Regions from separate parts of the Homo sapiens genome. Here regions 1 and 3 are each linked to region 2. The links come from fine-mapping of genetic effects on gene expression. A gene starts in region 2. Each other region holds a variant in brackets. All regions are shown on one strand. Distances are from middle to middle.

Region 1 (8,305 bases), 110 kb before region 2:
ACCATCATTTATAAAATTAAGAGAAAACAAAAACTTGAAAAAGTACCTCTCATTAAAATGTTCAGTGGTTTACTATCTAATATATAAGGTAACATAATCAATAAGAAAAGCACTTCCTCCATGAAAGACAAATGTGCAAGGGACATTACCAAATAATTAATAAGAAAAACTCTTAAGATGCTCAAATACATTGCACTTCTGGAATTTTATCTTAGAAAAACTGTTGTGATTACAGCGTTATTTATATAGTGAAAAAAGAAACTGTCTAAAAGCTTGTTCAAAATAAATGGTTACATAAACTATGGTTCCATAAATTCATATAATAGACTATTATGCAGTATTTTAAAAACATACATAGGAAGTGTTTTTAATGACGTAAGAAATGTTTATGATGTGATATTTAGTAAAAAAACAAGAATCAGAATTCTGCATGGTATAATTTGAATACATAAGGAGAAAAATACATAGGAAAAATAGAACGTACACAAAGATAATTATGGAATTATTTTTCTATACTTTAAAAATTTCCAAAAGTGGGAATACATTATAGTCAGCAAGAAAATAAATATATAAAATTAATTTTCTTGTAATTCCACTGTCCTTAACTCACCATGATATTATCTTCAACTTCTGCTCTTATATATGGCCCCAGGAGTCCCAAATGTTCATTTAGTTCTCCACGGTATAAGGGCTGAGTAAAGGAGCCATCAGTAAATTCCTGGAAAACAACTTTCTTGAACTGAGGGACACTGCCACTCTGAGCCCTGGAGAAAAAAAGCAGAGGAAAAGCAATAATTTTATGTACCAAGTGGGTAGAAATGCCTCACATCCTCATTTTCCTAGGTGCCTGAGAAGCATTTTGCATAGTTAACCACTTCATCTTCCTTGAAATACTCTTGCCAAGCTTTATTAGCATGTAAGTTCCATGAAAGCTGGGGTTTTGTCTGTTTTGTTCCCTGTTGTATTCCCAGCACCTGTAACGGTGCTTGGCACAAAGTAGGTGCTCAAAAAATATTTGTCGAATGTTGAATGAATGTAAAGTTTATAAACATACTCCAAATATAAGAGAGTCCCATGGTCAAGCCCTTGGATCTCTTTTCTTTTTACTTTTTAAAGCCCTATTAAAATTGTGAACTAAAAAAATTGTGAACTAAAACATATACAATAAAGTGCATAAAACACAAATGCCTTTGGTACATAAATGCAATCATCACCCAGATCAGTAACATTGCCAACAACCCACAAGACTCACTGGATGTCCCTTTTCAATCATACTTTCTCCCTTCCCACTGAAGGTAACCACCATTCTGATCTTTATGATAATCATTTCTTTGCTTTTCTTTATAATTTTACCAGTTACGTATACATCCTTTAAAAATATAGTTTAGTTTTGCCTGTTTTGAAGTGTGTAAATAAAACATACTACATATATTCTTTTGTTTCTTCTTTCACTTAGCATTCTGGTTGTGAGATTCATCTATATTATCATATGTAGCTATAGTTTGTTCATTCCCATTGTTGTATAGTATTATATGAATATACCCTAATCACGGACATTTGAGTTGTTATAATCTTTGGCACTTTCATATGGACCTGCTATAACCTTCTGGTGCATATCTTTTGGTGAACATATATGTGCATTTCTGTTGGGCGGAATTACTAGGTATGCATGTGTTTGGCTTTGGTAGGTATTGCCACACTGTTTTCCAAAGCAGCTGGACCATTTTCCATTTTCATTAGCAATGTATGAGAGTTCCATTTGCTCCAAATTATTACAAATATCTGGTATTGACTGTGTTTTTACATTTTTGGATGTTCTATGAGGTTGAGCATCTTTTCTTATGAGTAGCAGTCATTTGGATGTCCTCTTTTGTGGAGCACCTATCCAAGCTTTTTTCTGCCAAGTTTTCTCTTGGATAATCTGCTTTTTTCTTGTTGAATCAAAAGAGTACCCTATATATCCTTGATATGCTTTTTTATATATTCCTTGATTGCTGGAGAAGAAGGACACAGAGAAGCCTGTTAAAATCTATTATATAAGTTTCCTTTGTGTGTCCTTTGTGTTATGTATTGCAAACATTTACCATTCCGTGGCTAATCTTTTCATTGTTTTTATGTTATCTTTTGATGAGCATAAGTTTGTAATTTTAATGTGTGGAATTTATAAAAAAAAACCTTATTGGCTAGGGCTTTTTGTATCTTGATGTCAATTCTCTTTCTTTCCCTACCCTGTGGTTATTGATATATTCTTTTACATTTTCTTTCTAAAATGTTTATGATTTTATATTTCACTTTTAGACTTGTAATGCAATGTGAATGGATTTTTGTGTATGGTGTGAGTTAGGAATCCAATGTAATGTTTTATCTATATAGATACCAACATTTTCCAGCATTTTATTGAAACTCTACTTCTGTGACACCTTTGTCATAAATCAAGTTTCTATATGTGTTAGACTAGTTTTGGATTTTCTATTCTATTTCATTTACCTGTTTGATTATCCCTATACCAACTGCTACATTGTTTTAATTATTATAGCTTTAAAATAAGTCTCAATATATTAGACAGCAATTACTCTCATCTTATTCTTCCTCTTCAAGAAGGACTTGGCTATTCATAAACCTTTACATTTTCATATTAATTTTAGAATCAGCTTGTTGAGCTCTACAAAAGGAACGTCTTGGGATTTTCATTCAGGTTGCACTGAATCTATAAATCAGTTTGGGAATAACCGACATTTTCAAATATCATGTTTTCCAATTCATGTACGTGGTATATCTTGAAAGTTATTTAGGTACTCTTTAAAGTTTCTCAGTAAATTTCCATAGTTTTTTTTTCCATAGACATTTTGCAAATTTTTAGCTAGACTTATTTCTAGGTACTTGTTAGTATTCTATTCCACTATTTATTTTGTTTTTACTTCCTCATTGTGTCTCACCAAGCTGACACACTCAAACTTAACTTTCCCCCTGGTCAGGACTCTCCTAGAAAGTGGCTCTCTTGGCTTATGACCATTCTCAAGGGAGAGACCTCAAGACTAAATTAGAAAGAAACCATAGCAATAAAAATCACAATGGGGGTCATCTTCCAGCTTCTAACCAGAAGGAAATCAACCACCTTCAGCTCAGCAAACCTGCAAGCAATGTGAGCTGTGTGACAATCCAACAGAGGTGGAGAGCCAGCACTGATTTGGGCTGGATGGTTCAGGAAGCCAGCTGCTTCCGTTGGCGAGTCATTTTCGCTGTCACAAGCCATATTGCCATGATAAACATCTTTGACAGACACATTCTTGACACTGAAGCCCACATTGTCCCCAAGAAGAGCTTCATTTAAAGCTTCATGGTGCAATTCAAAAGACTTTATTTCAGTTGTAATGTTAACTGGAGCAAAGCTGACCAATCATGCTGGGTTTGAGGGCACCAGTCACCACTAGGCCCACAAAGACATTACCAATACTACCAATTTTGTAGACTTCCTGGAGAGGTAGGCACAAGCCTTGTCAGTTGGATGAGCTGGTGGTATGATATAATCCAGAGCTTCAAGCGGTGTGCTACACTGGTATTGCCATCTCTGCAGGTGACTCTCCACCCTTTAACCAAGGCATGTTAGCAAGTTGTCAGCATTCCAACCAGAAATTGGCATAAATACTACTGTGTTGCGGTTGTAGCCAGTATTCTTAATGTAGGGCTGACTTCCTTATTGATTTCCACATAGCTCTGTTGGCGATGGCATAGTTCAGTGAAATCCATTTTTTAACACCAACAATTAGTTGTTTCACTTCCAGTGTGTAAACCAGAAGGGCATGCTCATGGGTCTGCCCGTTCTTAAAGATACTAGCTTCAAATTTGTTAACACCACTAGCAATAATCAGGACAGTACAGTCAACCTGAGAGGTGCCTATCATGATGTATTTTTAAATTGATACACGATAATTGTACATGTTTTGGGGATACATGTGATATTTTGATACATGAATACAATGTGTAATAATCAAATGATGGTAATTGGAATATCAATCACTTCAACCATTTGTCATTTATTTGTGTTGGGAACATTCCCAGTCTTCTCTTCTAGCTATTTTGAAACATACAATAAATCATTGTTAACTATAGTCACCCTACTGTAATATCGAACACTACAACTTATCCCTTCTATTTAAGTGTAATTTTACTGTGGGGAAAAGAAAGAGAGATCAGACTGTTACTGTGTCTATGTAGAAAGAAGTAGACATAAGAGACTCCATTTTGGTCTGTACTAAGAAAAATTCTTCTGCCTTGAGATGCTGTTAATCTGTAACCCTAGCCCCAACCCTGTGCTCGCAGAGACATGTGCGGTGTTGAGTCAAGGTTTAATGGATTTAGGGCTATGCAGGATGTGCTTTGTT[A/T]AAAAAGTGCTTGAAGGCAGTATGCTTGTCCATGGAATACTATGCAGCCATAAAAAAGGATGAGTTCATGTCCTTTGCAGGGACATGGATGAATCTGGAAACCATCATTCTCAGCAAACTATCACAAGGACAAAAAACCAAACACCGCATGTTCTTAGTCATAGGTGGGAATTGAACAATGAGAACACTTGGACACAGGAGGGGGAACATCACACACCGGGGCCTGTCATGGGGTGGGGGGAGGGATAGCATTGGGAGATATACCTAATGTAAATGACGAGTTAGTGGGTGCAGCACACCAACATGGTGCATGTATACACGTGTAACAAACCTGCACGTTGTGCACATGTACCCTAGAACTTAAAGTATAATAATAATAATAAAAAAAGTCATCACCATTCTCTAATCTCAAGTACCCAGGGACACAATACACTGCGGAAGGCCGCAGGGACCTCTGCCCTGGAAAGCCAGGTATTGTCCAAGGTTTCTCCCCATGTGATAGCCTGAGATATGGCCTCGTGGGAAGGGAAAGACCTGACCGTCCCCCAGCCCGACACCCGTAAAGGGTCTGTGCTGAGGAGGATTAGTGAAAGAGGAAGTCCTCTTTGCAGTTGAGATAAGAGGAAGGCATCTGTCTCCTGCTCGTCCCTGGGCAATGGAGTGTCTCGGTGTAAAACCCGATTGTATGTTCTATTTACTGAGAAAAGAGAAAACCGCCTTAAGGCTGGAGGTGAGACAGGCTAGTGGCAATACTGCTCTTTAATGCACCAAGATGTTTGTATACGTGCACATCAGGGCACAGCACATTTCCTTAAACTTATTTATGACACAGAGACCTTTGTTCACATGTTTTCCTGCTGACCCTCTCTCCACTATTACCCTATTGTTCTGCCACATCCCCCTCTCCGAGATGGTAGAGATAATGATCAATAAATACTGAGGGAACTGAGAGACCAGTGCCGGCGCGGGTCCTCCGTATGCTGAGCGCCGGTCCCCTGGGCCCACTTTTCTTTCCTGTGCTTTGTCTCTGTGTCTTATTTCTTTTCTCAGTCTCTCGTCCCACCTGACGAGAAACACCCACAGTGTTTCTCGTCACTGTGGGTGACGAGGGGCAGGCCACCCCTTCATTTTACACCTATTAATCAACCTCTCTTCATTCCATCCCACCCCCCCATACCATTCCCAAACTCCTTTAAGCACCATTCTACTCTCTATCTCCGTGAGATCCACTTTTTAAGCTCTCACATGTAAGTGAAAACGTGATATTTGTCTTTCTATGCCTGGCTTATTTCACTTAACACAGTGACATCCAGGCTCATCGATGTTGCCACAAATGACAGGATTTCATTCTTTTTAATGGCTGAGTAATAGTCTATTGTGTATATATACCACACAGTCTTTATCCATTCATCTGTTGATGTATACTTAGGTTGATTTTATATCCTAGCTATTGTGAATGGTGCTGTAATAAATGTTGGTGTGCAACTATCTCTTTGATACACTGATTTCCTGTCTTTGGATATATATCCAGCAGTGGGATTGCTGGATCACATGGTCGTTCTATTTTTAGTTTCTTGAGGAACATACATACTCTTTTCCATAGTATCTGTACTAATTCACACTCCCACCAATAGTGTACAAGCATTCCCCTTTTGCCACATCCTCATCAGCATTCATTATTTTTTGTCTTTTTGATAAAAGTCATTTAACTGGAGTGAAATATCCATTGTGCTTTTGGTTTGCATTTATCTGGTAATTAGTGATGTTGAGCAGTTTTTCATATACCTGTTGGCCATTTGTATGTTTTCTTTTGAGAAATGTTTATTCAGATCTTTGTTCATTTTTAATAGGATCCTTTGCTTTTTTGCCATTGACTTGTTTGAGTTCCTTATATATTCTGGTTATTAATACCCTCTCAGTTGTATAGTTTGCAAATATTTCATCCCATCCTGTAGGTTGTCCCTTCACTTTGTTAATTGATTCCTTTGTTGTGCGGAAGCTTTATAGCTTGATATAATCCCGTTTGTCTACTTTTGCTTTAGTTGTCTGTGCTTTTGATATTTCCCAGGCCATAAAATATTTCCCAGACCAATGTCCTGGAGCATTTCCCCAATGTTTTCTTCCAGTAGCTTCATACTTTCAGGTTGTATATTTAAGTCTCTAATCCATTTTGATTTAATTTTTGTATACAGTGAGAGATAGGGGTTTAGTTTAATTCTTCTGCATGTGGATATCCAGTTTTCCCAACATCATTTATTGAAGAGACTATTCTTTCACCAATGCATATTCTTGGCACTTTGTCAAAAATGAGTTGGCTCTAAATGTGTGGATTCATTTCTGGGTTCTCTGTTGTGTTCCACTGGCATATGTTTCTGTCTTTATGCCAGTACCATGCTGTTTTGGTTACTACAGCTTTGTAGTATAGTTTGAAATAAAGTAGCATCATGCCTCCAGCTTTGTTCTCTTTGCTCAGGACTGCTTTGGATATTTAGGGTCTGTATTAGTCTGTTTTCCTGCTGGTATAAAGAACTGCCTGAGACTGCATAATTTATAAAGGAAAGAGGTTTAATTGACTTACAGTTCCACATGGCTGGAGAGGCCTCAGGAAACTTACAATCATGGTGGAAGGTGAAGGGGAAGCAAGGCACCTTTTTCACAAGGTGGCAGGAGGGAGAGGTGACAGAAGGGGAAATGCCAGATGCTTATAAAACCATCAGATCTCATGAAAACTTACTCACTGTCATGAGAACAGCATGGGGGAACCTGCCCCCATGATCCAATCACTTCCTACTGGGTCCCTCCCATGACACATGGGGATTATTTTGCCTTACATGAAATGTAAGGCAAAAATTGCCCTTGCCCACAATTCCATAATTTTAGATCCTCCTAGATCCTTAATATAAACAATCAATTAATTGAAAAAATGAATAGATGTTTTCAGAAAAAAATAAAACTACTTTGATCTTTGGTTCACACAATGCACCAAAATAACTTTTAGTCTACAGGAAGTATTAAAAAGTTAAATGTAAAAAATTAAATTGTAAGAGAAAATTGAAGAAAGTATTGTTTTTTTTTAAAAAATCTCTGGATAGGCAGGAATTTTTACAAACAATATACTACAATTCAAGATGAGATTTGGGTGGGGACACAGAGCCAAACCATATGTTTCCACCCATGGCCCCTCCCAAATCTCATGTCCTCACATTTAAAAACAGAATCATGCCTTTCCAACAGTCCCCCAAAGTGTTAGCTCATTCCAGCCTTAACCCAAAAGTCCAAGTCCAAAGTCTCATCTGAGACAAGGAAAATCCCTTCTGTTTATGAGCCTGTAAAATCAAAAGCAAGTTAGTTCCTTCCTAGATACAATAGGGGTACAGGCATTGGGTAAATACACTCATTCCAAATGGGAGAAATTGGCCAAAACAAAGGGGCTACAGGCCCCATGCAAGTCTGAAATCCAATAGGGCAGTCATTAAACCTGAAAGTTCCAAAATGTTCTCCTTTGACTCCGTGTCTCACATTTAGGTCACCCTGATACAAAAGGCAGGCTCCCACAGCCTTGGGAAGCTCCACCCCCATAGCTTTGCAGGGTACAGCCCTGCTCCTGGCTGCTTTCATGGGCTGGCATTGAGTGCCTGTGGCTTTTCCAGGCCCACGGTGCAAGCTCTCAGTGGATCTACCATTCTGGGGTCTGGAGGACAGTGGCCCTCTTCTCACAGCTCCACTAGGCAGTGCCCCAGTGGTGACTGTGTGGGGGCTCCCACCCCACATTTCTTTTCCTCACTGCCCTAGCAGAGGTTCTCCACGAGGGCTCTGCCTCTGCAGCACACCTCCGCCTGGACATCCAGGCATTTCCATACATCCTCTGAAATCTAGGTGGACATTCCCAAACCTCAATTTTTGTCTTCTGTGCACCCACAGAA
Region 2 (8,305 bases):
GATAGAATTACCTGGGGACTAAATAGTTTGCTGAGGATGGGGCCTAGGAATGTAAATTTTAATAAGCTTCCCGAGTGATTCTTATGCACACTGAAGTTTGAGAACTAGTGCCTTCATGGACTTCAGCTTTGGGGTGAGCTTTAAGAAAGTCAGGGTCCAGTTAATGAATATGAGAGATACTGCTTTTTTTTATTTTTTTATTTTTTGAAATGGAGTCTCACTCTGTCACCTAGGCTGAGCACAATCTTAGCTCACTGCCACCTCCGCCTCCTAGGTTCAAGCAATTCTCCTGCCTCAGCCTCCTCAGTAGCTGGGATTACAGGTGAGCACCACCATGCCCAGCTAATTTTTTTTTTTTTTTTGGTAGACACGGAGTTTTGCCATGTTGGCTAGGCTGGTGTCAAACTCCTGACCTCAGGTGATCTGCCTGCCTCGGCCTCCCAAAGTGCTGGGATTACAGGCATGAACCACCATACCTGGCCGATTGCTTATTTATATCTCCAAGCTTCACTGATCAGAAAATACTTTTCCTGAAAAGTTATCCTACAGAAATCAGATCATGTTGAGAGGATAAGTCTCTGGAATGTTAATAAAGGTATATGGAGCTAGCATAGTTGAACTGTTCACTTTTTGCATAAGAAATCTCACTGTTCATGTTTTCCCATCAGACAAAATAAAACAGACTGACGAGTTTTATATATTAATGTGTGAACAGTGCATAGCTACATGCCAATAAAGCAGCACAGTTAATGAATCAATAGCTTCTTTTTCTGCTCAGTGAAAATAAAAATGCTTTATACCAACTAGAAAAAAAAAAAATCCAAAAGCCCATTCTTTGAAAAGAGCACCACCAGCAACAAAATAGACAAGTCATTGGCAAGCTTATTCAAGGAAAAAAAGATAAATAGCAAAGATAGAGGAATTTAGGAATAAGAAAGGGCACATAACTACAGATAATGTGGAGTAAAAGAATCATGAGTGAGTGCTACATGCAACACTGTGGCAACAAAATTGAAAAAATAAATAAAGTTACTTCCTAGAAAGGTATATAATTATTGGAAGTTGAAACTTGAATTGACTGATTATCATAGAAGAGCCTGGAGGGGTGATTAAAGATATTGCAAATGCCACTAGGACCAAATGGATTCATAAGTGAGTCTCACCTAACTTTTAGACAATGGATAATTCAAATGTTACTTAAGCTATTCTAAGCAATAGAAAAAGATGGAGTACTCATCAATTCATTTGATAAAGCCAACAAAACTTTGTTTATTATTATTAGTAGGTTGAGTAGTGAAAATCTACTAAGAATAGTCTAAAGAAATAGTACATAGAACCCACTAATGATCAAATTCCATGAATAGTAGATTTTACTCCAAGAATGTAAGGGTATTTAGTGTCAGGACATCTATGAACATAATTTGTTCATCAGCATATCAAAGAAGACAATTCAGATGATACCAGCTGCTGAAAACTTATTTATGATAAACATTTTGTGGCAAATGAGAATAGAATAAACACCATTTACAAAAACCAAAACAGCAAATGTTACTCTAAATAGCAAAATACAAAAATTATTTCAAGTAAAATCATAGAGTAGAAGGAATGTTCACTTTCATTGTTATTATTTAACATTTGCTCTTGTTTTCTAATAAATTCAATAAGATAAGAAAATGAAATAACTGGCTATAAATATTGGAAATGAGCTAAAATCTGTCTCATTTAACTTATGATATGATTCAATACTCACAGAGACTTTAGGGTAAAATTACTAGAATTAATAGGCAAATTTGGTAAGGTAGCTAGATTTAAGATGAATATACAATGGCTGGGTGCGGTGGCTCAAACCTGTAATCCTAGCTCTTTGGGAGGCTGAGGTGGGGGGAATGCTTGAGCTCAGGAGTTGAAAACCAGCCTGGGTAACATGGCAAAAACCCATCTCTAAAAAATATACAAAAATTTTCCGGGCATGGTGGCCTGCTCCTGTAGTCCCAGCTACTTGGGGGGCTGATATACAGGAGAATTGCTTGAATCCAGGAGGTTGAGGCTGCAGTAAGGTGAGATCACCCCACTGCACTCCAGCCTGGGTGACAAAATGAGACCCAGGCTCAAAAGAAAAAGCTGAAAATACACAAACCAATAGCTTATCTCTATTTGGTACTAAGCACTCATAAATGGAAATAGGAGAAAACTATCTTATTAACAATAGCATCACACTTATAAAATACACAGAGATAAATGTAATAAGAAAAATATTTAAATTTATTACATTAATAAAATTAAGGTCTGAGTTTAATGAAATTGCAGTTAGAATCACAACAGGGCTTGGATCTTTTTAATTTGAAAAATATCTTAACAGTTTTATGTGGAAGAATAAAGTGTCTAAGAATAGCTAAGAAAGGTACAAAAAGAATAGTGAGGATTGCTTTCACCCACCAGATATCAGAAGATATCATAGGCTCACTGTAATCAAATCACTATGGTACTGGCATAGCAAGATAATAGTAGATTAGTGAAACAGCCTAATGAATCCAGAAATATATGCTAATATATATGAGAACTTTATATGATGAATGTGTTGATTCAAATCAGTGGCAAAAGGTGCCATCACAATAGGCTATTGATCTGGATGGAAATAAAACTAGACAAATCCCTCTCTCATGCCATATGACAAAAGTAATTAGCAGATAATTGAAGCAATGCATATAAAAAGCGAAACAGTAAACATCTTGCAAGAAAATCTGGGAGATTACACGTACAATCTTGAGGTGTGGGAAACATTTTTAACCAACCTTGCCGACTCTGAAGATATGAAAGAAAAGATATCTCTGATTATAAAAATTAAAAACTGTTTTGGTAAAAGTTATAAGAAAGTCAACAGACAAACAATAGATCTTGGGGAAAACTGCAATATACATGACAAAGAGTTAATATTTGTAATAATAAAAGGGTTCTCATAATTTTTTTAAATGAAAGAGTCCAAAGAATAATGGGCAAATCATATGACTAATTAAATCCCCCAAATAAATCCAATAGCCAACAAGCATTTAAAAAGATGCTCAACTTATTAGAAATAAAAATAACACAATGAAAGTAATGATGCAATATCACTCTACACCTGTAAAATTGGCAAATTTTAAAAACAGGATAAAACTTATCGCTATGTGAATGCAGAGAGAAGGCCATTTTCATACTTCGATGGTAGAAATGTTTGAAAAGTTCTGACCTCTTTGGAAATTAAAACTTAGAAGGAAACATTCCCTTCGTTCCATTAATATTCCTCTTGCAAGTTTGTTCAACAGAAGTAAAAGCACCAGTATGTAATGATATAGGATATAGTAGCCAAAAACTGGAATAAAGTGAACATATTGACTAAATTGTGATACAGCCATACCATAGAATCTTATATAGCCAATAAAAATAATGAATTAAAGCTATACCAATTGACTTAGAGTTCTAGTACGTGTTAATGAGTGAGAAATGTGTGTATAATGTCCCAATTTTATAAAACAAATAATGTCCAAGAAAACCTTTGTGTGTGTGTATGTGTATGTGAATATATATTATCATACTGGGGTTACCTAGCTGAGGTGGGGGAGAAGGGGACTGATGTGGAAAGAGGGTGGGGAGCCAAACAGAAAGAACCAAAAAGAATATAAAGTATGTACAACATGACCACATTTAATGTTTACACAGCCACAATCTATGTATTATATTTAAATCTTTATAATACACATTTAAAGAAGACAAAAAAATAAAATAAATGATTTCAGCATTCAACTCAAGAAGCAAAAATCTAACAACAAAATGAACCAAAGGAAATTAGAAGGAAGGAATAAATCAATGAAAGTAGAAGCAGAAACTGATGCAACAGAAAGAAAAAAGAGATTGATAAATCAAACCAAAAGAAAATTCTTGACAAGACCAATAAAATCAAGAAAACTCCTGGAAATATTATTTTTAAAAGAGAGGAAGAGAACATATACAACATAAGGAATGAAAAAGAAAATATAACTACAGACACAGAACAGTTTAACAAAATCACAGGAGACTCTTACATAACTTGATACCAATACATTATCAAATCTAGGGACAGTAGATTGCTTTCTATGAAAGTATAGACCAAAATATACCAATATTTACTGAAGAAGAGGTAGAAAAATCTGAATCAACTGATGACCATAGACAATATTGATAAAGTTATTTAATACTCTGCCTAAATGCACCAGAACCCCCAAAACACGAAAAGCTTCTGAACTCAAGGCTCATATTATCCTTACACCCAAAGTAGGAAAAGATATTATAAAAACACACATTGCATGTACACACAAGAGAACCAGACATGAAACTTGTGTGTGATATTGATTGGATTTCATTGCCTTGATTCTCTCTATGGAAGCTTGGGCAGGCAGAGGGAAGTTTTGTCTTTGTCCCTTCACCCTCCCTCTACTCCAGTCTCTAGATTCTGGAGGAGCAGCATATGACGAAGAGAAGCAATGGACAAAACAGAACAAAATATCAACAAATAGGTCAGACCTATGAAAAGAATTGGCAGTTAGCATTTCTGCTAATAACACAGATGTGTGCACACCTTACCCAGAAATGTTTCTTTGGGGCCCAGGTAGCATCACAACCATCCTAACCCGATGTCTGCACCTTCCTCCAAGCAGACTTACATCCCCACAATCCTGGCCCCGATCAGACCCTACAGGACATGCCTTTACCTTGCGTCCACAGGCAGCTCACCGAGATCACTTTGCATATAGTCCCATGACAGTTCCACTGCACCCAGGTAGTATCTTCTGGTGGCACTAAAGCAGAATCGCAAAAGGCACAGAAAGAAGCAGGTGGAGAGCTCTATTTGCATGACTTATTGCTACAAATGTTCAACTGGAGAAGCAAAAGGTTAATTCTTCTCTAAAATATCTTTAGCTCCCAGGAGGGGAAAAAAGTAAAATTTCTGATTTAATGAAAAGTCCCAATTTCTTTGCAGAGCATTTTAAGGAACTTTACCCACTGGATGTGCTCAGCACTAAGCAGTAACCGATAGGATTGCTTCCTTTTTATCAGTGGGAAGCAGCCACAGGAAGAACTGAAGTAGCAAAAGGGAGGCTGCTAAACTTAACCCATTCACTTCTGAGAGCAGTAGGGGCATAAGTCTGCTTTAATCAGAACCTTTAAGGAAAGGAGGAGAGGGATGGAGAAGTCAAAGTGAACAGGAGCTTTAATTTGTGCTCCTATTCCTAGCCTACTCCAACCCTCTTCCTGAGTGGCAGCAGCAAGAGAAGTTCTGGATGTTGTCGAAGATTCTAGAATTCACTTGCACTAGCAAGAGTAACCAGCAACCTGTTAGTCTCTCTGCTTTTGCCCTTGCCCCTCACACTGCTGCCAGTATGAGGAATTTATAGTTTTTAAAACTGTAGTTTTACATATAACATGAGGTTAGGCAACTATTGTTTTAAAAACTATAATTTATAGTTATAATTTAAAACTATAAAGCGAGTCCTGTCACTCCTCTTCTCAGAATCCTCCAATGGCTTCTGACCTCCATCAGGGTAAAACCCTACATCTTTACCATGGCCTAGGTCCTAGAGCATCCCACATGGTCTGCATGCCCTTTCTCCTGACCTCTGTAGTCTCATCTCACTCTGGTTATACTGGTCTCCTTACTCTTCCCTAAAATATCAAGCACACTCATGCCCCTGGACCTCAACACTTGCTATTTCTTTTACCCAAAACACCTTTCCCCCAGATTTCCACGTAGTTCCACTCCCACAACTCCTTCACATTTCAGCTCCAATCTTCCCTGTTGAATGAGGTTTAAATATGGAACACCACATTTATGTTGTAAGCTCTTTACCCCCACCTGCATCACTGATATCCCTCTTGGCTTCATTTTTCTCAATAGCACTCATAACCACCTGGCATTTATTCATTTATTTATTTTGTTTTGTTTTTAACCTAACACTTTTCCAGGCTGTTTACATTTGGCCCAGGTATAGGATATATCTCTTTACATCAGAATGTAGCCATGGTGAGCTCAAACACCCTACTCAGGTTAATGTTTATTAGGGAGAGTGAGGGCCCCTGCAGGGGCCTCAAAGTGTAAGAGATTATGAGAAGAAACTTGATCAGGGTTGCTATAAAAATGTTATCATTGAGCTCAGTTCTGCACAAACAAGAATGTGTTAGGGAGCAATTGGTATATTGTCGACTGGTTTGGAAACAGGCAGCAAGAAGCCCCTTTGATAAACACTCCTCTCTGACAGGTACAAGGATGCAGAGATGACAGCTGACACTATATGCCAGGAACTGTTCTAGGTGCTTTTAAATACAGGTACTATTCTTACCTTCATTTTATGGGTGATGAAACTGAAGCACGGAGAGGTTAGGCAACTTCTCCATGGCCACACAGCTTGTGAGTGGTAGCATTCAAACCCATGTACTCTGGCTCCAGAAGTCATGCTCCTAACCACTATGCTATACTTCTATGCCTCAGAAATGAAGAAATCCCAGTTCCCAACCCCCTGGGAATGACAGTCCAATGGAGGAGACAGAAAAGTAGACAGTTACAGTACAGGGTGATAAATTCACTGCCAGGTGCTACACATAGGCTATCTGATTTAATCCTCATGACAACACCGCAAAGTGGATACAGATAAAGTAACTGAGGTACAGAGAGGTTAAATGGCTTGCCTACAGCCACATAACTACCCATTTGTCCTAGACAGATATTGTCCTAGGCACTGGGTACACATTGATGAAAAATATAAGCAACTGAAAGAGGGATGATAAGCAATAATTACAATACATGAGTACATTATACAGTATGTTAGAAGGTAAAATAAGTGCTGTGCAAAAAAGAGAAGTGGGGTAAGGGGGAGTAAGGGTGGACCAGGTTGCAATTTTAAAGGAGGTTAGTCATGGAAAGTTTCACTAAGGTTGCATTTCAGCAAAGGGACATTGACTTCTACACTGAGGGCAATGGGGAGACACGGCCGGGTTGTGAGTAGAGGAGGGTGGTGATCAGAATTATCTTTTAGGCTGATCTTTCTGATCACTGTAGATAAAACAAACTCTAGCAGGATAAGGGTAGAAGGAGGGTGGCCTGTTAACCGGGGGTGAGAAATGGTGGCGGCTTGGGCTATGATGGTACCACTGGAGAGGGTGAAAAATGGCTGGATTCATTGTGAGGGTAACGTTTGTGGGAACTGCTGATGAATTTTGGATCTGTGGGCTTTGAGAAGGAAAAATTTGGAACACCAAGTTTTTTGGAATAAAGTTGACTAACTGGGATGGGGATGACTGCATGAGTAGCTTAGGGGCGGGGCACACTGTTAAAGGGCTCCTCAGGCACTGCAGGCATAGAAGCTCCTTTCTTTCCCAGTGCTTCTCTTATAGCGATTACAATGTTTTAAAAATGTGTCTTCCAGACAAATACAGTACAATCCAACATGTTTGAGGTTCTACAGTTAACAGATTGTATAATTAATAATCTGGGTGGGAATGTTAATCAGGAATGAAATACAATTTAAAAATTAACAAAGTAATGAGTCAGAGGCTATATTGATAGAAGCACTTTTTAAGGAATAGCATTCCCTGGCCCAAGGGCTTAGTTGATTGAAAATTTTATCTATTATTGCTAAATTTTAAATCAAAATATGGCCGGGCACGGTGGCTCACACCTGTAATCCCAGCACTTTGGGAGGCTGAGGCGGGCAGATCACGAGGTCAGGAGATCTAGACCATCCTAGCTAACAAGATGAAACTCCTCCTCTACTAAAAATACAAAAAATTAGCCGGGCATGGTGGCACGTGCCTGTAGTCCCAGCTACTTGGGAGGCTGAGGCAGGAGAATCGCTTGAACCCGGGAGGTGGAGCTTGCAGTGAGCCGAGATCGCGCCACTGCACTCCAGCCTGGGCAACAAGAGCGAGACTCTGTCTCAAAAATAAAATAAATAAATAAATAAATAAATAATCAAAATAGACCCCATTACCAAATTTTCATGTTTTCAAGGATTCTCTAAAACCTACAATATTATCAATTACATATTCACAAATAATTACTGAATACAATATGGTATGTGGTAAAGTACAAAGGAGTACTGTGGCCATTTGTGATAAATAGAAATCAAATTGGAAATCTTCATAGATAACGTATTTTTTCTTTTTTTTTTGGAGACGCAGTCTCACTCTGTCGCCCAGGCTGGAGTGCAGTGTCGCGATCTCGGCTCACTGCAAGCTCCGCCTCCCGGGTTCACGCCATTCTCCTGCCTCAGCCTCCCGAGTAGCTGGGACTACAGGC
Region 3 (8,305 bases), 40 kb before region 2:
ATGAATTCTTTGGTTCCAGAATTTTTGTTTGGTTCTTTTTTGATATCTATCTCTTGGGTAAATTTCTCTTTCATAGCCTCAATTGTTTTTCTGTGTTCTTTGTATTTTTTTCAGAATTCTCTTGTATCTCACTGAGTTTATTTAGTATCAAAATTTGGAATTATTTTTCCAGGATTTCATAAATTTTTAAAGAGATGTTGGCCAGTTTACTTAAAAACCAATGGTCACATATACTGTTTTGCTTGTAAACTATGATTTTTTTATTTTGTGGATACATAGTAGGTGTATATATTTATGGAACACATGAGATGTTTTGATACAGGCATGTGATGTGAAACAAACACATCATGGAGAATGAGGTATGTATACCCTCAAGCACTTATCCTTTGAGTTATTAACAATCCAATTACACTCTTTATTTTAGAATGTACAATTAAGTTATTATTAACTATAGTCACCATGTTGTGCTATCAAATAGCAGGTCTTATTCATTCTTTCTATTTTTTTGTACCCATCTTAAATTTTTTTTATTTGGATCTCTTGCTACAGAATTATTGTGCTCCTTTGGAGTGTCATAGTTCCTTGATTTTTCATGTTTCCTGTGTCCTTACATTGATATCTGCACATCTGGTGTAATAATCACTTTTTCCAATTTTTAAAATTTGCTTTTGTAGGAAAGAACTTTTTCCTGAAGATGTATCTGTGGTGTTGCTTGGGTAGAGCACTTCGGTTTTGATTCTCGGTGAATGTAGTAGCCTCTGTATAAGATTCTAAACAGCATCAGTGATATTTGTGATTTTCTCAGTGGCTTAGGGTGTGGTTATTAGTGGAGGCTGTGGTGAAGTTTTTCTGAGAAGTGGGATGCCAGGTAGGCCTGTCTTCAGGCCCCAATGGTGGCAGCAGTGGGCTGAGTGTGCTTGTCTTTGGTGTACCATGGTGGCATATGATTGCACTGGTTTTAGGTCCAGGCAGGTTGATTTGTGGGCCTCCAAGTGGTTTACTTGGGTGCCAGAAGTGGTATTGATGGATCACATGGGTGGGTGGGTTCTCAAGTTCCTGGGCAGCAAAGTGGCATGGTTGATGGCAATCATAGCAATGAAACAACCTGAATCTCAAGTGGTCTGTGCTGGCGTTGGTTGTGGCTGCTATGGATCGCATGGCCAGTCTCCAGACCCTCAAGTGGTGCATGCAGTGAGTGCTAACTGTGGCAGTAGTGGCAGGTTGAGTGGGCCTGACCTCAGACCCCAGGAGGTGCTCAGGTGCCACCAGTGGTGGACAGGGCTAAGTGATCCCTAGGCCCCTGGATGATATGCTTGGGTACTGGGGGCAGGTAGAGCTGGGCTACGTGAACCTGCCCTCAGGCTCCTTGGTGGTGTGTGAGGTGCTGGTTGTGCTATGCAGGGGTGGGGTGATACCGAGGTCACTAGCAAAATGCTCAGGTTGGGGTGCAGCAGTAGCTGTGCTATAGCCCTGCTCTTGGTGAAGGTGGGGTTGCTTTCTCAGGGAGTAGCTGTAGGCAGGTAGCTTGGGAGCACAAGGTTCACTAGTGTTTTGGCCCCACAGCAGCCTGCAGCAGCAGTGGTTGTAGGTAGTGGAATTTGTTCTTGGAATATGTGAAAATGCATGGGCACTCCTCTGCTGGGTGGGGCAGGATCACTGCTCAGGGCTCCTGCCTAAGTCACGGCCATCATAGCAGGGCAGGATGTGTGGGCTGTGTTCTCAAAATGGTGCTGTGCTGCAGCTGCTTGGGAGAATTGCAGAATCCAGCGTGAGCTCTCTGTTGCAATGCCTTCACACGGTCTTTAGGCAACTCCCTATGCTAGTCTCTGTGCTGTCAAGGAATAAGGCGCTCTCCTGTGGCTAGGATTGCAAGAGTCCTTGGTGAAAATGAGGAACACTAAGGGTCTCTTACCTTTTCCCCACATTAGGAAGCTGTTCCAGACTCCCAGCCAATCCCAGGCAAACAGGCCTTATTTCTCTCTCCTCCCTTGCTTTCAATGCTTCCTGTCACTGCTCTGTTGAATTCCAGTGTTCTCTCTTAGATGACCTATTCAAAGTATAATTATCTACTTGCTACTTTGGTTCCTCTCCATGGAAGGGATGAACACTAGATGCATCTAGTCAACCATCCTGAAGCCCCTCCTGATTGTATTTTTGGATAACCTGTCTTTGAGCTTGCTGATCCTTTCTTCTGCCTGATCAATTCTGTTGCTGATGTCTTGTATTGCATGTGTCATTTTTTATTATACTTTTCAGTTCCAGGATTTCTGACTTTTTTTATTCCTTCAATTTCTCTGTTAAATTTCTTTGATAAACTTCTGAATTGTTTCTCTGTGTTTTATAAAAGTTTGTTGAGTTTTCTTAAAATAGCTATTTTGAATTCTTTGTCTACCAGATCATTCACCTGCATGTCTTTAGGATTAGTCACTGGCACGATTTTTTGTTCATTTGTTGAGGCTGTCTTTCTTAGGCTATTCTTATTCTTTGCAGATGTGCATCCCTGTCTACACATTGAAGAATTAGGTATTTATTCTCATGTTCACAGTCTGGGTTTGTTTGTGACTGCTCTATTTCAGTGAGCTCGTTTAGAAATTGAGTGGGGCTGAGTGTGGTGGCTCATACTTGTAACCTAGCACTTTAGGAGGCTGAGGCTGGAGGATTGCTTTAGGTCAGGAGTTCGAGACCCAGCCTGAGCAACATAGCAATACCCCAATCTTCCCCACCCCACACACAAAACCCGAAAATTTAGCCAGGCATAGTGGCACACACCTGTAGTCCCACTCTGGAGGCTGAGGTGGGAAGACCGTGTGAGCCCAGCCAGGAGTTCAAGACTGCAGTAATCTATGATCGCACCACTGCACTCCAACCTAGGCAACAGAGACCATATCAAAAAGAAAGTGAAAGGACTGGCTGTTGTATTTCCTTTTAGCACGAGAGGGCGCCCTGAGCCCAGGTTAGACGCAAGTCTCATGCTGGCTCTGCTACTAATTAGTGGAGATCCACAGAGGGCACTCAGGCCATACGGGAGAGTTTTCCGGTGTAAAAACCGTGGGTCCATGGTGACTTTCCGCCTGTGGTACTGCAGTGGCTTGCGGGTGGGGTCTCAGTCATAAAGAACCAATCCCCTTTATGTGCAACTATGGTTTTACTCGTCTTTGCAGTCCAAAAGGGCTTCACAGTCTTGCTCATGGGTTCAGGTTTTCTTAACTCTTCTGAAGGTAATTTCACGCATCGAGTTGTTACCTTGATGTTTCTGTGAGGAGATTATTGCTGAAGAGTCCTATTCCACCACTTTGCTCCACTCAGCATGCACTACTTAATCACAAGCAGGAGATGAAGGCCCGGAAAGAAGACAATAGAAGCCCAAACCCCTCTCCTC[A/G]ACCTTTATCTAGTAGACCACAGTGTCCTTATAATTCAGCAGTCAGCACCTTTTCTTATAAACGCCAGATGGAAGAGATGCATATATAAGGAAGGGTATGTGGGAAGGGGCATGGGGCCAGCCACTCTCCAGGAACCTCCATGCGTTCAGCTACTCAGAAGCTCCTGATGGGCAATTCTAATATGAATATTTATCTCTTTTAATTCTTATCATTTTTCTATCATTTCTTGATGTTAAAATCTGCTTTAAAACACACAGTTGACTCTTGAACAATACAGGTTTGAACTGCATGAGTCCACTTATATGCAGTTTTTTTTCAATAAATATAGTGAGATTTTTTTGGAAATTTATGACAATTTGAAAAAACTGTCAGATGGACCACATAGGGTAAAAATATCAAAAAAATTAAGAAAAAGGTATGTTATGAATGCAAAAAATATATGGAGATGGCCGGATGCAGTGGCTCACACTTATAATCCCAGCACTTTGGGAGGCCAAGGCGGGCAGATCACGAGGTCAGGAGTTCAAGACCGGCCTGGCAAACATGGTGAAACCCCATCTCTACTAAAACTACAAAAATTAGGTGGGCGTGGTGGCACATGCCTGTAATCCCAGCTACTTGGGAGGCTGGGGCAGGAGAATCGCTTGAACCCAAGAGGGGGAAGTTGCAGTGAGCTCAGATTGTGCCACTGCACTCCAGCCTGGGTGACAGAACAAGACTCCGTCTCAAAAAATATATATATATACTTTGGGAGGCCAAGGCGGGTGGATCACGAGGTCAGGAGATCGAGACCATCCTGGCTAACACAATGAAACCCCGTCTCTACTAAAAATACAAAAAATTAGCCAGTCGAGGTGGCGGGCGCCTGTAGTCCCAGCTACTCGGGAGGCTGAGGCAGGAGAATGGCGTGAACCCCGGGGGGCAGAGCCTGCAGTGAGCTGAGATTGCGCCACTGCACTCCAGCCTGGGCGACAGCAAGACTCCGTCTCAAAAAAAAAAAAAAAAAAAATATATATATATATGTATACACACTTATATATACATATACATGTTGATACTAGACTATTTTATCATTTATTACCATAAAATATACAAAAATCTATTATAAAAAGTTGAAATTTATAAAAACTTACATACTTACAACCATACATGGCACCATTCCCAGTTGGGACAAATGTAAACAAACGTAAAGATCCAGTATTAAATCGCAACTGCATAAAATTAACGGTAGTAGCCATCTCCTATTGTTATTGTGCTGAGCTCGAGTGCTGCAGGCATCCACTGAAAACTCTGCATGATGCTAATCATCTCTGCATAAGCATTTCATCTCTCCATAAACTTTGAAGGATACTTGGGACCCGTATAAAGTGCCACTAGTGATGCTGGAAGTACTCCCAAGAAGCAGAGAAAAGTATAAATAACATTTTCCTTTCTCTAGCTTACTTTATTGAAAATATACAGCATATAATACATACACAAAATATTTGTTGTTTATGTTATTGATAAGGCTTCTGATCAACAATAGGTCATTAGTACTTGAATTTGGAGGGAGTCAAAAGTTATACATGGATTTTTGACTGTGCAGGGGGTTAGTACCCCAACCCCCACATTGTTCAAGGGTCAACTATATTCTCAACCACATTTTGTTTGACCTTATGAAAGATTTTATCTATTCTTAGTACTTTCTATTGAGTTTCTATTTTGACCATTGTGTTTATAATTTTTATGAGCACGTTTTGTTATGATTGTTTTTCATAGAATCCTATTGTTACCTTATTTTTAAGTTTCTTTTTATTGATGTAAAATATACATATGTAATTTGCCATCATTACCATTTTTAAGTGTACAGTTCAGTGGTATATATACATAATGGAATACTATTTGGCCATAAAAAAGAATATTTTCATTTGCATCAACATAGGTGACACTGCAGGGCAATACCACATGTTCTCACTCACATGTGGGAGCTAAAAGAGTGGATCTTGTGAAAATAGAGAGTAGAATCGTGGTTACCATAGTCTGGGGTGGGGAGGGTGGAGGTGATGAAGGTGCCAGTTGGGACAAATGTAAACAAACGTAAAGATCCAGTATTAAATCGTAACTGCATAAAATTAACGGTAGTAGCCATCTCCTATTGTTATTGTGCTGAGCTCAAGTGCTGGGATTACAGGTGTTCCAGTAAGTGGTCAGAGCCCTGCCTGTCCCAAGTGGGTGAGGTCCCAAAGGGATTATCATAGCAGTGTTGGAAGGCCAGCTAGTGATTCATGCCAAGGTGACCTGTAGGATAAACCTGCTACAGCATGGTGCTGCTGCACGGCCATTCTGAATTTGCATGTCTTTGGCCAAATTATAGAGCAGAATTTCCAGGGCTGGGGATGGTAGTCCTTCCTCCCTCATTTGTCTCTGCCTGTACTCTGGGATATTTCTGCCTTCAGACAGTCATGATGTTTTCTGTGGGTTAAGGCAAGGACAAATCTCCCCCCAGGGAACCCAAGAAGGTGGAGAAGCTGGTTGAACACCTCAATGTCACTTTTTCCAGTGTAGAAACCATGAGTTGAGGGGAGATTTTCCATACACTTGGTGCTGGGCAGAATAGGAGGAAGGAGAGTCATGGATGTGGAAGTCTGATTCTCAAAGTTTTTTCACTTCTCTGTGGCTCCGGGAACTGTCTCATCCTCACATGTGAGCTCTGGGTTGTTGTTGGTGTAGATATTGGTGCTGTATGTTTGGTTTTGGTTTTCTGTGAGAGGGAGTAAAGCCAGCCTGCCTCTATGCCCCTATTTTAAAACTGGAAGGCATCTTATTGTTACTTTATTGATGCAGTATCTTCTTGAATCTTTATGAAAATAGAAGTAAGAGCTTCCGATGAGTTCTGTTCTGAGCCATAGCTTTTTTTATTCTGGGATTATTATTTTCTTTGTTCATCTTTGCATATCCCTTCCATATTTTAGGTTCTTTTTAAATGTCTGTTCATCCTTGGTTGCCCACTCACATTTAAGAAAAGGAAAGAAAAATCTGACTGTGGGCTGTATGTACATGGGTAAGCCTTCATTTTCAGGTGACCAAAAGAGGAATTGCCTACTATACATTAAGATCCCCAGAGGCCAGAGATCTTCAAGTATTCAGTGGGCTATATCCTCTGAGATGCCGAGCTGTTTGTGAACTGAAGTACAGAACTCTGGTGCTGAATTTGGAAGACCCTGAGGATTGTTGAGCAGGTGTGTACATACCTGGCAGAGACCTGTTTACATAACCATTGACTGTGTGCATTTTAGGCCAGGCCCGAGCAGATGCAGCATCCCTATCCTGCATCAAGGAGTTCTTTGTTTCTGAGTGCCAACTTTTCCCTGATGAGAGAGAAGGCAAAGATAGAGTCAGCTAAGCATGTGTCTCATGAATGACCGCCTCCCCTTTCTCCTTCCCTGCTCCCAGTGTGCTCACACCTTAAGCATTTTTGTCAGCAAAGTAGGCACACAGCACTTATCCTCTCAAAGTCAGTGTGAGGGAGGGAGAAGATAATTATGTAAAGGCAGACATCTCTTGCTCAAACTGATTTTCTCTCCCTCCATTTGTCCATGACAATAAGTGGGAATGGATAATAATAGAAGACAGAATATTGGTTAGCTTGAGGCATCAGGATTCAATTCTTTTTATTAGCTGAATTATTTAAAAGAAAGCTTATGAAAATCATCCTAGGGGCCGGGCGCGGTGGCTCACACCTGTAATCGTAGCACTCTGGGAGGCTGAGGCAGGTGGATCACTTCAGGTCAGGCGTTTGAGAGTAGCCTGGCCAACATGGTGAAACCCTATCCCCACTAAAAATACACAAATTAGGCGGGCATGGTGGCATGTGCCTGTAATCTCAGCTACTCAGGAGGCTGAGGCAGGAGAATCACTTGAACCTGGGAGGTGGACGTTGCAGTGAGCCAAGATTGTGCCACTGCACTCCAACCTGGGCAACAGAGTGAGACTCGATCTCAAAAAAAAAAGAAAAGAAAAAAGAAAATTGTCCTAGGAAAAAGGCTGTCTGTCAGTCCCTGTCTCCGTTATAATTGCTTCATCCCAGCTTATATTTATGAAACCCCAGGAACCTGAAAGCTCCCTAACACTGTCTCTGAAATTGATAAGGGCTGAAGCACTGGAAATACTATTGAACAGTGACTCCCTGGAGTTACCCCTTTGTGTGAAGGACTGGTAGCTAGTGCTAAAACTTTATGAGGCAGCCATTCATTTGTTCATTCATTCAAACACATATTTATTGAGCACTACTAATTGTAGACACTGATGATAGAGAGGAAGATACAGCCTCTGCTTTCAAGATGCTTACACTCTAGCTGGAATCGTCAGAGAAGCTGATAATTATAATAAAGAGTAAAGAGTGATATAATAAAGATGAGAGTAGGGTGTTACAGGGAGCAGAGAGGAGAAGAAATTTCACTTTGCTTGAAGGGAAAAAGATATGAGATCAAAGAAGATAAATATTAAATAAAGTAGAAAATACTGATATAGTATGATAAGGAATAAGCTCAAGATGCTGTGGAAATATAAGCAGGCATCTAATCCAGACTAGAGGTCATCCTGGGAGAAGGAATTAAGGAAGGGGATAACTGAAGTAAGTCAGACTTAAAGAAAAAGGAGAAGCTTACTTAGTGTAAAGAGGGAGACAGATTTTTCCAGGCAGAGGAAACTGCATATGCAGAGGTCTCATGCAAGAAAAAGCATTACATATTTGGGTGACATGGAAGATAAGGCAGGAAATGGAACACAACAAGGCTGGAAATGTCACCAGAGAATAGATAATGCATTTTGCACTTTACCTTGAAATTGAATTATTTTATTTGTTTTGTTGTTTGAGATAGGGTCTGGCTTTATCACCCAGGCTGGAGTGCAGTGGCGCAATCACAGCTCACTGCAACCTTCACCTC

Evidence for each region. PIP is the estimated chance that this variant, and not a neighbour inherited with it, causes the effect.
Region 1: its variant is fine-mapped to the expression of F8 in whole blood (TOPMed, PIP 0.95).
Region 3: its variant is fine-mapped to the expression of F8 in whole blood (TOPMed, PIP 0.92).

Annotation. Positions count from the first base shown.
Region 1 is chrX:154,905,810-154,914,114 of GRCh38, forward strand. F8 (coagulation factor VIII) reads right to left here. Exons shown (of 26, transcript NM_000132.4): 15 at 611-764. It also overlaps the pseudogene EEF1A1P31. Among named protein-coding and RNA genes, the nearest start is that of MIR1184-1, 23 kb to the left of the region's middle. The variant A/T (reference allele first, on the strand shown) is at 4,383.
Region 2 is chrX:155,017,686-155,025,990 of GRCh38, forward strand. It overlaps F8 (coagulation factor VIII), which reads right to left and starts at 5,038. Exons shown (of 26, transcript NM_000132.4): 1 at 4,725-5,038. The coding sequence starts at 4,867.
Region 3 is chrX:154,978,077-154,986,381 of GRCh38, forward strand. It overlaps F8 (coagulation factor VIII), which reads right to left. Exons shown (of 26, transcript NM_000132.4): 6 at 6,611-6,727. Among named protein-coding and RNA genes, the nearest start is that of F8, 40 kb to the right of the region's middle. RefSeq lists enhancers at 2,834-2,883, 2,984-3,033. The variant A/G (reference allele first, on the strand shown) is at 3,380.